Linked DNA regions of Homo sapiens: region 2 is linked to region 1. Evidence: fine-mapped expression QTL. A gene starts in region 1. The other region holds a variant in brackets. All regions are shown on one strand. Distances are between the middles of the regions. Region 1 holds the start of RDX (radixin). Region 2 overlaps RDX (radixin).

Evidence for each region.
Region 2: its variant is fine-mapped to the expression of RDX in blood mononuclear cells (TOPMed, PIP 0.91).

Annotation. Positions count from the first base shown.
Region 1 is chr11:110,293,729-110,298,728 of GRCh38, reverse strand. RDX (radixin) reads left to right here and starts at 2,115. Exons shown (of 14, transcript NM_002906.4): 1 at 2,115-2,262. RefSeq lists silencers at 1,733-2,532, 2,583-2,632, 2,643-2,742, 2,873-2,932 and an enhancer at 2,146-3,018.
Region 2 is chr11:110,233,748-110,239,280 of GRCh38, reverse strand. RDX (radixin) reads left to right here. Exons shown (of 14, transcript NM_002906.4): 11 at 1,629-1,789; 12 at 3,090-3,182. Among named protein-coding and RNA genes, the nearest start is that of RDX, 60 kb to the left of the region's middle. The variant ATATAT/T (reference allele first, on the strand shown) is at 2,155.

The sequences.
Region 1 (5,000 bases):
TTGGCCAGGATAGTCTCGGTCTCCTGACCTCATGCTCTGCCCGCCTCAGCCTCCCAGGAAGTGCGGGGATTACAGGCATGAGCCACCATGCCCTGCCATGAAAGTTCTTAGGGGTTGAATCACAGTGCCAAATAGCTTTATAAAGAGATTATTTCAGTTTACACTCCCACTCACCATGTCTGAGAGTACCCTTTTTATCTCACCAGCCTTGACTGTTATCTTTCACTTAAATATTTACTAATAGGATACCCAACTAAAATGTTGCAATTTTTGGTCTGTTTGCTGTTGCAGAAGATAGGATAAAATCAAGGCTTTTGGAGTCAAACATATATTTGGGTTTGGTCACTGCTCTGCCACTTCCTAGTTTTGTTACATTGGGGAAATTACTTACCTCTTTTTAAGCTGTCTTATTCATCGATTTTTTTTAAAGGGTCAATAATAGTATTTATCCCAGAGGGTTTTTGTAACCATTAAAAGAGACAGTCATGTAAAAGAATTTCACACCAGTGTCTGGCACCTGACCAACAACAGTGAATCCTTCACTTTCAGTTGCAAAAGTGTGTTATATAATTTCATTTGATTAGTGTACTATGTAGGAATTTACATAATACTTTTTTTTCTTACCTACTTCATGGGAAGTATTACGTAATACTTTGACTATGCCTGCAACCTGATGTGGTAGGCTGAACAATAACCAGGATAATTCTTGCACCCTAGGGAGAGGTAAGGAGTGATCTTTTGGTGGTCCCTAAGAACCACAAGAACCTATTTGGTCGCAAGTCACACACCTGGTTCCCATCCTTGAGGAATTTGCTATCTAAAGGCCCTTGAGTTTAACCCTTGAGTCTCTTGGGGGCTTTTAATTGTTCGGAGAGGTCTCAAAGGGCAATAGTGGAAACTCACTGAAGAGGCAGGCTAGTGAAAGTGATTTGCAGATATTTCCTGGAAAAGCTACTGTCTCACCTAAGGTAAATGCTAAGGCAGGAAGTATAGGAGTTATTTGTCCTATAAAAGTAAGTATACTCAGGCGTTTTGTTATTTGAATCTAAAGTTTGTTCACAAAAGATAAGCTAAAAAAAGTATTGCAAACAGGGCAAGCCAGGCGAATCTGATTTTGTGCGCTTGCTGTTTGTATACTCATAGCAAGTTTTGCTCCCTGAATCATCCCAGCAGACAATACTGAGGGGACTCAGCATGGATTAGATGACAGAAGACTGATCCAGAAGTCAGGAGCTTCCTGTCTCATCCCAGCCACTAACTAAAGTGAGTGGGCTAGACTTAGTCTTAAGATCGAATGCCTAACTTTCTCTAAATCTAGAATTATGTAGGTTTGGCGGCTCTTTGGGGCCCTACTTCCAACTTTTTCTTGCTAACCAACTCCTTCCAACTGCCAAAGCATGTCGTTGGTAATAAAAAATTATCACACATCCTTGCTTGGATTAAAATTTGCACTCCTGATTTGGGGTCTTATCCATTGAGGTTTTGGTGAAGTTTGAAAATTGTCGCTGAAAAATTAAGTTTTTCTAGTTGGCTAAAACCTGCCAAAATAATGTAAACGTTCTTTGTTGCAAATCTAAATTCCGCTCAGGTAGGCCCTTTTCTCCTTCCCAGTCCAGGATCTTCAAACCTAACAGCCAAGTCTCACGCTTCATTTGGTCCCCGGCTCCCTCTGGGAAGAATTCCTCCTCTGGGGGCGACGGCAACGCCCTCAGTGAGTTTGCTGGCACCAGCGGGAGTTTCAAGTTTCCACTCGTTGGGGAGGCGGCGGGCACACTCCGAGCTTTGGGCTGGGCGGCTCCGCTTCCCTCGACCGCAGGTTTAGCTGGAGCCCAGCGCTCTCTGGAAGGGCTCGACCCTCCGGCGCATTCGCCCTATTTCCCTGGGCGCTCCCGAGCCCGCAGCCACCCACCTCGCGTTGGCCGGCCCCAGACCGCGACCCCCGGCCACGCCCGGAGCCAGGCCTGCGGCTGCGAGCCTGCGGGAGGGGCGGGGCGGGGGCGGCCCCCAGCGGCGGCGTTGGCGCTCAGTCCGCGGCGCGAGGACGGCCGGCCGGCAGGGGGAGGCGGGGGGGCGCCGGGCAGCCCCGCCTTTTCCCGCGGAGGCGCCGAGCGGCCATATTGCGGAGCTGTCTGCGGTGGCGGCGGCGCCTCTCGTCTCCCGCGGGCCAGCGCTCGCACCACCGCTTCTCCCTCCCTGTCGCAGCCGCGCCGCCGCGCAGCGCCCCAGCCACACGCCGGCGGGCAGAAGCCGCCCGCTCTCCGGGTAAGGCGCGGCGCCCTCCCTTCCCCCACTCCCCGCTCCCGGTTCCTCCGGAGACGCTAAGGTGGCGGCGCGAAGTTGCGGGGCCCGTGCTGCCCGGCCGTGGCGCCGCCGCCAGGGCTTGGCGCGCCTCCGCTCGCGCCCAGCTGGCCGAGGCGCCACTGTGGTAACGGCCCGGCCGGCCAGGCTCCTCCCGGGGCTGGTAGGGGCCGCGAGGCCCTGCCCGAGTCGTGGCTGAGCCGCGGCCCGAACGTGCCTGGCCGGGCCAAAGTCGACCTTCGCCGCCGCGGGATTCTCCTTTCCTCGGGGCGCGGAGTCTGCCTTCAGCGCCGGTGTCGGACCCCCAGCGCCCTGGGGACGGTGGGCTCCCGCTGCCTGGACTGGGCCCCGGGCCCGGGCTGGCATGGTCCCAAGGGTTGTTTGAAAATCCAGATATTCAGCGTAGGTAGAATTCGATTTTACATTTATTAGAACTTGTTCCCCGGCCTCCAGTTTGAAAGGAGGGGTGTTAAATTACTAGAGAGCGTGCGTTCCGCCCCAGTGGCAAAGGGGATGTTGCATGACAGGCTTTGGGGCGCCAGTCGCTCCCGCCGCTCGCACCCGCCAGGCCAGGGCCGCGGTTCCCGGCCGCAGCTCTACCTGCTGCTGTTGCAGCTCTCGGAGCCCTGTAACTTTCTCGGGCCCTTGAGGCCGCTCAGTTTTAGTGTCTCAGACCCCACCAGACAAGTTCAGTACATGATATCCCTCTTTTCCTTTAAAGGATTCTAAACTCAATTCCCGGACTAACTTTGAAAGGGGGCAGTGCATTTTTGTTTTTTTTTTTTTTTCAGTTTAAACAGACTACATCACTTCCTAGACAGATGTCATGTTTCTTCAGACATTCCCAATATTTGGTGGTTTTTTTTTTTCCTTAAAGAGTAGTTACTAGGTTGGAAATGTGTTAAAAGTCAACTTCATAAAAATATATTTTAAAATACATTTGAGATTTTGGTGGAAGACACGTTGCTGAGGAACTCGATGGCATTCTTGTGGCACTAAGACTGGCAGGATGTAAATATAAAAGTCTAAGATAATAAGGGTTTATTTGATAAACGAGTACTTTGACATAGACATTGTAATCTATTGTTTAAGGAGCATACTTCTTTTTTTTTTTTTTTTTTTAGAACACTAAATACTCTTTTATATGACTGATGGAGCTAAGAAGGAACAATTACCCCGTTCATGTTGCTGGATAAATAATGGCTTGATCCATTTGCCAAAACAGCATCACTGGATTTGAGAAAGGAGACTAATATTCAGGATTGCAGTTTTTTATTTTCAGAATTTCTTTGCTTTCCCCAGTGTGCTTTATCTTCCAGAGATTAATAATACTTTCCTTCAAATACAGCAACATGTAAAACACTCCTTTTGAAGTTAATCGTATGCTGTAAAGACGATTGCAGTGACTTTCTTTGCTTAATCGCTTTTTTATATATGATGGAATTTAATAAACAGTTGGTATATTATTAGCAAGGAATGAATAGACATTGGCATTCTTTACAGTTTTATTTAAATGAGACAGAATTTGATTGTGGCATTGAAAAAACGTTGAGTTCTTGACCTTAGGAATCACATACAATGTTTTGTTCACTCCTGTATCCCCACACATGGAAGAGTATGTAGGAGAGTCTCAGAAGTAGCTGTAGAATAGATGTAATTAATTTGGGTGTAGGGAAAATACGTTGAGTCTGTCCTTTTGTTTTTTTTTTTGAAATTGTGATTAATTAACTGAAAGTCAAATTGATTACTTTCCTTTTGTTGGTAAGAAATGACAGACTTTGCTGTTGTTTCCCTCCCTTGCTGAGTCTCATTAGTCTCCGGGATGGGGAACGCGTTGTCTTTTGTTTATTGGTTCACTGTTCCCAAAAGCAGAATTGGATTTTTTTTTTAAGTCGATAAATTTTTACTCAAGGAATTCCATGTTGTGATTTCTTCCACTGTCCATCAAGGTCACTTTAGATCCTCTAAAGAGCTAGAGTCAAAAGATTTATCTTCAAGTTAGTCCTTTTTAATGAAACCGATGCTTATTTTAATCCAGTTAGCCCATCTCGCTCTGTCTCCCAGGGTGATATGCAGTGGCATGATCTTGGCTCACTGCACCTCCGCCTCCTGGGTTCAAGTGATTCTTGTACCTCAGCCACCCGAGTAGCTGGGACTACAGGCGTGCGCCACCATGCCCGGCTAATTTTTGCATTTTTAGTAGAGACGGGGTTTTGCCATGTTGGCCAGGCTGGTCTGGAACTCCTGGACCTCCGGCGTTCTGCCCGCCTCGGCCTCCCAAAGTGCTGGGATTACAGGCATGAGCCGCTGCGCCCGGCCAGAATTGGATTTTATTATTCATTTTTTATCTTTGGCAGGCTGTTGAAGTGAAAGTCTTTATATATTTTTATTTTGCTTTCAGTTCTCAATCTTTTAACCTACTATGTGTGATCTGATATAATAGTCTGAAATGGTAAATGATGGTGAGAGTCTTGTTTTTTCATCCATTTTTAATTTAATGCATTTTAATTTATGCTACTAATGTTTAAAAACGGGGTCAAATTTTAACCAATATTTCCTGTAGGCCAAAGTCTAAAAAAATCTGTTTTATTAAGGTTGTGAAAACTGAGCTATATGCTGCTGGAGTTTATATGTAAGGTGTAGATAAATATAATTTCGTGTTACTTCTGTGCATCGGGGAAGTCAAGCAAGTCACTGTTGGG
Region 2 (5,533 bases), 60 kb after region 1:
ACCAATGTCCTTCTTTCACTTCTTTGGTTAGATTGATTCCTAGGTGTTTTACTTTTTTTTTTTGGCTATGGTAAATGGAATTGCTTTCTTGGTTTCTTTTTCAGATTGTTTACTGTTGTTATATATAAATAGCTACTGATTTTTTTTTTTAATTTTAGTTTTTAAGAAGAGATGATGTCTCACTCTGTTGACCAGACTGGTCTCAAACTCCTGGCCTCAAGCGGTCTTCCCACCTTTCCCTTCGAAAGTGCTGGGATTACAGGCGTGAGCCTAACCAAAGCCTAACCAAAGAGTCATTCTTCTCCAACCCTCTCAAAACCTTCCAAGTGTTTTTTTTGTTTTTTTTTTTTTTTTTTGAGACAGAGTCTTGCTCCGTCGCCCAGGCTGGAGTGCAGTGGTGCAATCTTGGCTCACTGCAGCCTCCGCCTCCTGGGTTCAAGAGATTCTTCTGCCTCAGCCTCCCCAAGTAGCTGAGATTACAGGCGCCCATCACCATGCCTGGCTAATTTTTGTATTTTTAGTAGAGTCGGGATTTCACCAGGTTGGCCAGTCTGGTCTCAAACTCCTGACCTCAAATGATCCACCCACCTCAGTCACCCAAAGTGCTGGGATTACAGGCATGAGCCACAACACCTGGCCTAAAACCTTCCAAGTCTTAACTGCAATTACTCAACTAGTTCTGATCAAGACCAAGAAAATTAAGAACAGTAAGTAAAAGCTTGTAAGTTACAGTTAGCTTTCAAATTTCATGACATATAGATTTTCTTAGTATACAGTAAGGGAAAATAATTCTTTGTAGGACCTTGTACTGTCTTACTAGGTGGCATTCTATTGTCTTCTGTCACAGGGCTTAAATAATTGTCAAAATAATATTTAAAGTTAGTACTGTTAAACTCTCTTAAAAATTTATTTTCCTTTCCTGTTCAACTCATTGGAATAAGAAAAGAGTTGATTTAGTGATCTATGCACCTAAGGATTAAAATTCATGTTATTTATCTCCCAATATTGCTTATCTTCATGCTTTAGGAATGAATATATACCAATAACTCACATTTTTCAATAATTCATATAATCACATCAAAATTCCTATTTTGGGGTCAGTAAATACTGTTTTCAATCTTAATTTCTTGGATTTACTTATTAGTTTAGATAAGTAAAACCTTAATGGAAGTTTTGAAATGTATTATAGATTTCTGAAACATGGCAATTTGTTTACTGAGGTCAAAACTTCAGATGGAGAGATTATTTTTTAAAAATAAAATAGTTACGTGCTTGTAGCCTTTTTACATAACTTGAATTGCAGAAGATTTTCATTTCTCTTTAAAAATTATTAGGCTTTTGCCAAGTTGGAAACGAGGTATAGCGCCTGTAGTCCTAGCTACTTGGGAGGCTGAGGCGGGAGGATTGCTCGAGCCCATGAGTTCGAGGCTGCAGTGAGCTTCTGCACTTCAGCCTGGGCAACAGAGCGAGACCCTGTCTCAAGAAAACAAAGAGGTATATATGTATTTACATGTGTGCTAACTTTTAGAAATTGAACAGATTTGATTTCTTGCTACTATTTTAGCTTCTTTTGATAATGAGAATGATTGGAATTAATCACTGTTGGGGGGAATACACATATTTCATAGAACTAGAAGAACAGACTCGAAAAGCTCTAGAACTGGATCAAGAACGAAAACGAGCAAAAGAAGAAGCAGAACGACTTGAAAAGGAGCGTCGAGCTGCTGAAGAGGCAAAGTCTGCCATAGCAAAACAAGCTGCCGACCAGATGAAGAATCAGGAGCAGCTAGTAAGGAACTGTCTTCTTAGAGAAAAAAGTTTAAATAAAAGCATAGAGTGAACCCTCTAAAAAAGAAAAAAAGAAAAGCAACCATTTTGTGCTTTCTGGAGAGCAAGCCAAAGATAACATGTAACTTAATAACAAAATGTAGACAAAAACCTAGAAAATTTATTTCTGCCTAAACAAAAACCTAAAAATACAAAAGAATAAGGCATTTTTCTATAGATTATTTGTAAATGGAGTCTACTGTCAGCAAAAGGTTCTGATTCACTTTGACATTGGACAGGTTCGGTAATAAGTCAGTTGGCGTCTTTTGCTTTAGATAAATTAATATGTTATAGTTATATAATATAGATATATGTTATAGTTATATA[ATATAT/T]TATAGATATATAATATGTTATAGTTCCTATGAGGCCATAATTGGTTGGGTTTTTTTATTTAGTGGACTTGCAAATAATTAGATGTAAGCGTGTCACTTAAAAGATCCTGGATTTAAATATTAGTTCACACATGTACTTGCTATGTATGTGTCTTTGGGTCTTTCTGAGCCTCAGTTCCCTCCCTTTGAAAAGAGGAATGATGGCCGGGCACAGTGGCTCACGCCTGTAATCCCAGCATTTTGGGAGGCCGAGGCAGGTGGATCACCTGAGGTCAGGAGTTCAAGACCACCCTGACCAACATGGCGAAACCCTGTCTCTACTAAAAATACAAAATTAGCCAGGCACAGTGGTGCACGCCTGTAATCCCAGCTACTCGGGAGGCTGAAGCAGGAGTATTGCTTGAACCTGGCAGGCGGAGGTTGCGGTGAGCTGAGATTGTGCCACTGGGCTCCAGCCTGGGTGACAGAACGAGACTCTGTCTGAAAAAAAAAAAAGGAGGAATGATACTACCTGTTAATGATACTACCTGTTAGGATTATTGGGGTATTAAATGAGATGATTTGACAAAGTGCCATTTAAAGTATATAGCATTAGATAAATATTTTATCTTTTGTGGACTTTAACAAATAGTTTATTGATGGAAATTTTTTAAAAAAGCTTTTAAGTTACACATTTTAAGTTCCTGCTACTGAAAGCAGGATTAACTAGTCTGTAGAATAATAGTAATTTTTTAATTTTGTCTCCTTAGCTCATTACCTAAAGGACTTATTGTAAATAAGCTATTTAAGATCTTAAGAAATACTGTATTTTTTTAAATGGAAGGCTAAGAAAAACATAAACAGCCTAAGCATGTGCATTAAAACTTTGTTGACTTATAAGATTATTCAAAATATGTTATTTTAATTTTGGAATTATATTGTTTACTTTAGGCAGCAGAACTTGCTGAATTCACTGCCAAGATTGCACTTCTAGAGGAAGCCAAGAAGAAAAAGGAAGAGGAAGCTACTGAGTGGCAACACAAAGTAATCATTTATTCATTTACTAGCTTTTATTGAATAGCTTTTATACCCAGGATTATGCTGACTTTGTAGTGATAAGTGTAAGATACTGTCATAATTTAGAGTGGGAAAGATACTCGTGTTATGTGTATTGTAAATATCTATCTACAGATATAAACCAAGTACTTTGGGAACACAGAAGAGGTGATTAATTTCTGGGGGACCAGAGAGTTGTCGGGAGACCCATATACATTTAAGCTGGGTCTTGAATAATGAATTAAATTTTGGGGGTACAAAAGATTGGGATGTAAAATTGGGAATAGTTAGAGACTGAAGAAGTAGTCATTCTAGACAGAGGGAACTGAATGAGTATAGGAAGTATGAATGTATATAATAGATTTGAGGATAACCAATAAGCAGCCGAGGCTTAGTGTTGTTCAGAAATGTTAGGAGATGTGGCCCTCAAGTTTGATAATAGGGAATTGTGAAAGGCTTTAAATAAATGCTCTGCTACAGCAAGGCAGTGGGAGTATCGATTGACTTGGGGCTTAGAAGATTTCAAAACAGGATTGTAACATGATCAGATATGATTTTATAAAAACCATGTAGTGATCAGTGTGAAGAAAGGATTGGGATAGTGGATACTTAAGAGATAAAGACCCAAACTGAGGATGTGAAAATGAGAATAAAGAGGAATGGGAAGATATAAGAGACATTTTGTGGTCACAAAAAGGCATGGGAACCAGTGATTGGATATGAAGTTGAATTATTTTTATTTTTTTAGAGACATGGTCTTACTCTGTGTCCCAGGCTGGAGTGCAGTGGCACAATCATAATTCATTGCAGCTTTGAACTCCTGGGCTCAAGGGATCCTCCCACCTCAGCCTCTGCAGTAGCCGAGACTACAGGCATGCACCATCATTTTTATTTTTGTTGAGAATGGAGGTCTTGCTGTGTAACCCAGGTTGGTCTTGAACTGCTGGCCTCAAGCAGCCCTCCCATCTCAGCCCCCAAAGTGCTGGGATTGTAGGTGTAAGCCACTGTGTGCAGCTGACACCGAGATTTCTAATATGAGTCCTAAGTAGATGAAACCACTGTTGTCTAAAGTAGCACACAATTGTAAAATCAGGCTTTGGTTGGAGAGTGGGGGAATATAAGATAATGAGAGTTTAATTCAAACAACATTAACTCTTAACTGAAAAGATAATTTTTTTACCCCCAAAGATGATATTTAGTTTTAGAAGATGATTTTTCTACAATAAAATGTACTTATACAGAAAACAGTTTTCTTGCACTCTTAAGTAAATCTTTGTAGCAGTTTAAATTTCATTGGGTAATTTTATATGTATTGAAAATTAGTTATATATAAATAAAACTACAAAAGGAATGCTACTGTTAATTTCCCAGTTACTCTACTTGTTTATTAGAATTTTTTAGATCCCTTTTAGGGATGATTTATGAAATTTAGAGACACATAAACTTTAAAAAATTAGCATATTACAGATATCAAGTCTGTGAATTATAGAAAATTAGAAAATGCACACAAAAGACAATTGTATTCCCATAAACTAGGGGAAATACTGCAAAACCTTAGTACATATTCTTCCAGGATACTTCCTGTTTATATATTCAACATGAAATCTTACTGTATGTACTATTTCATTTTAGTCAATTTTCATCTCAGAATATTAGACTATATTAAGAATTTCCCAAAAAGTCTCATAGCTAATTTGCCAGACAAGTGTTCAGAGGACTTTGCATTGTCTGTATTTGCTGTAAGTCTCTTTTAATGGAGGGCAGTTTCTCTTTTTATTATTTTGATTTATTGAAGGGACCTACAGAATGTCTCACCTCCTATATTTGTTTAGTTACTTCCTTGTGTCATTGACCTTATCCTTTAACTCCAGTATTTCCTTTGAACCAGAAGTTAGATCTAGAACCTGGGGAATTCAAATTAAATGTTTTGACTACAGTGCATCAAAGGTGAGACTTCCATATAATTGAACATCTAAACTGGAGTACTTTTGAGAAAAAGGGGGTATTGTTCATAATTACACCAGGACAACAGTGTAACAGGACTTTTCCAGGTAAACCAAGATAATATGATCACCCAAATAATTGGTGATGTTAGATATTTCAGGTTGTATCATATCAGAAGACACTTAATATCTAGTTAACTCACCATTAGTATTTTTTAGTGATCATTGGATTTGAGTAACGACAGTCTCATTCCTCCGTTATTCGGTTACATTTTCCCCTTGTGGCTCAAATAAAATCTATTGGGTGTGAGATTCTTAGGCATTATATGAATATCTATTTCTCATCAACTATTTGCACAACAGTTTTAGCAAACAATTGATAATCCTTGCCAGAAT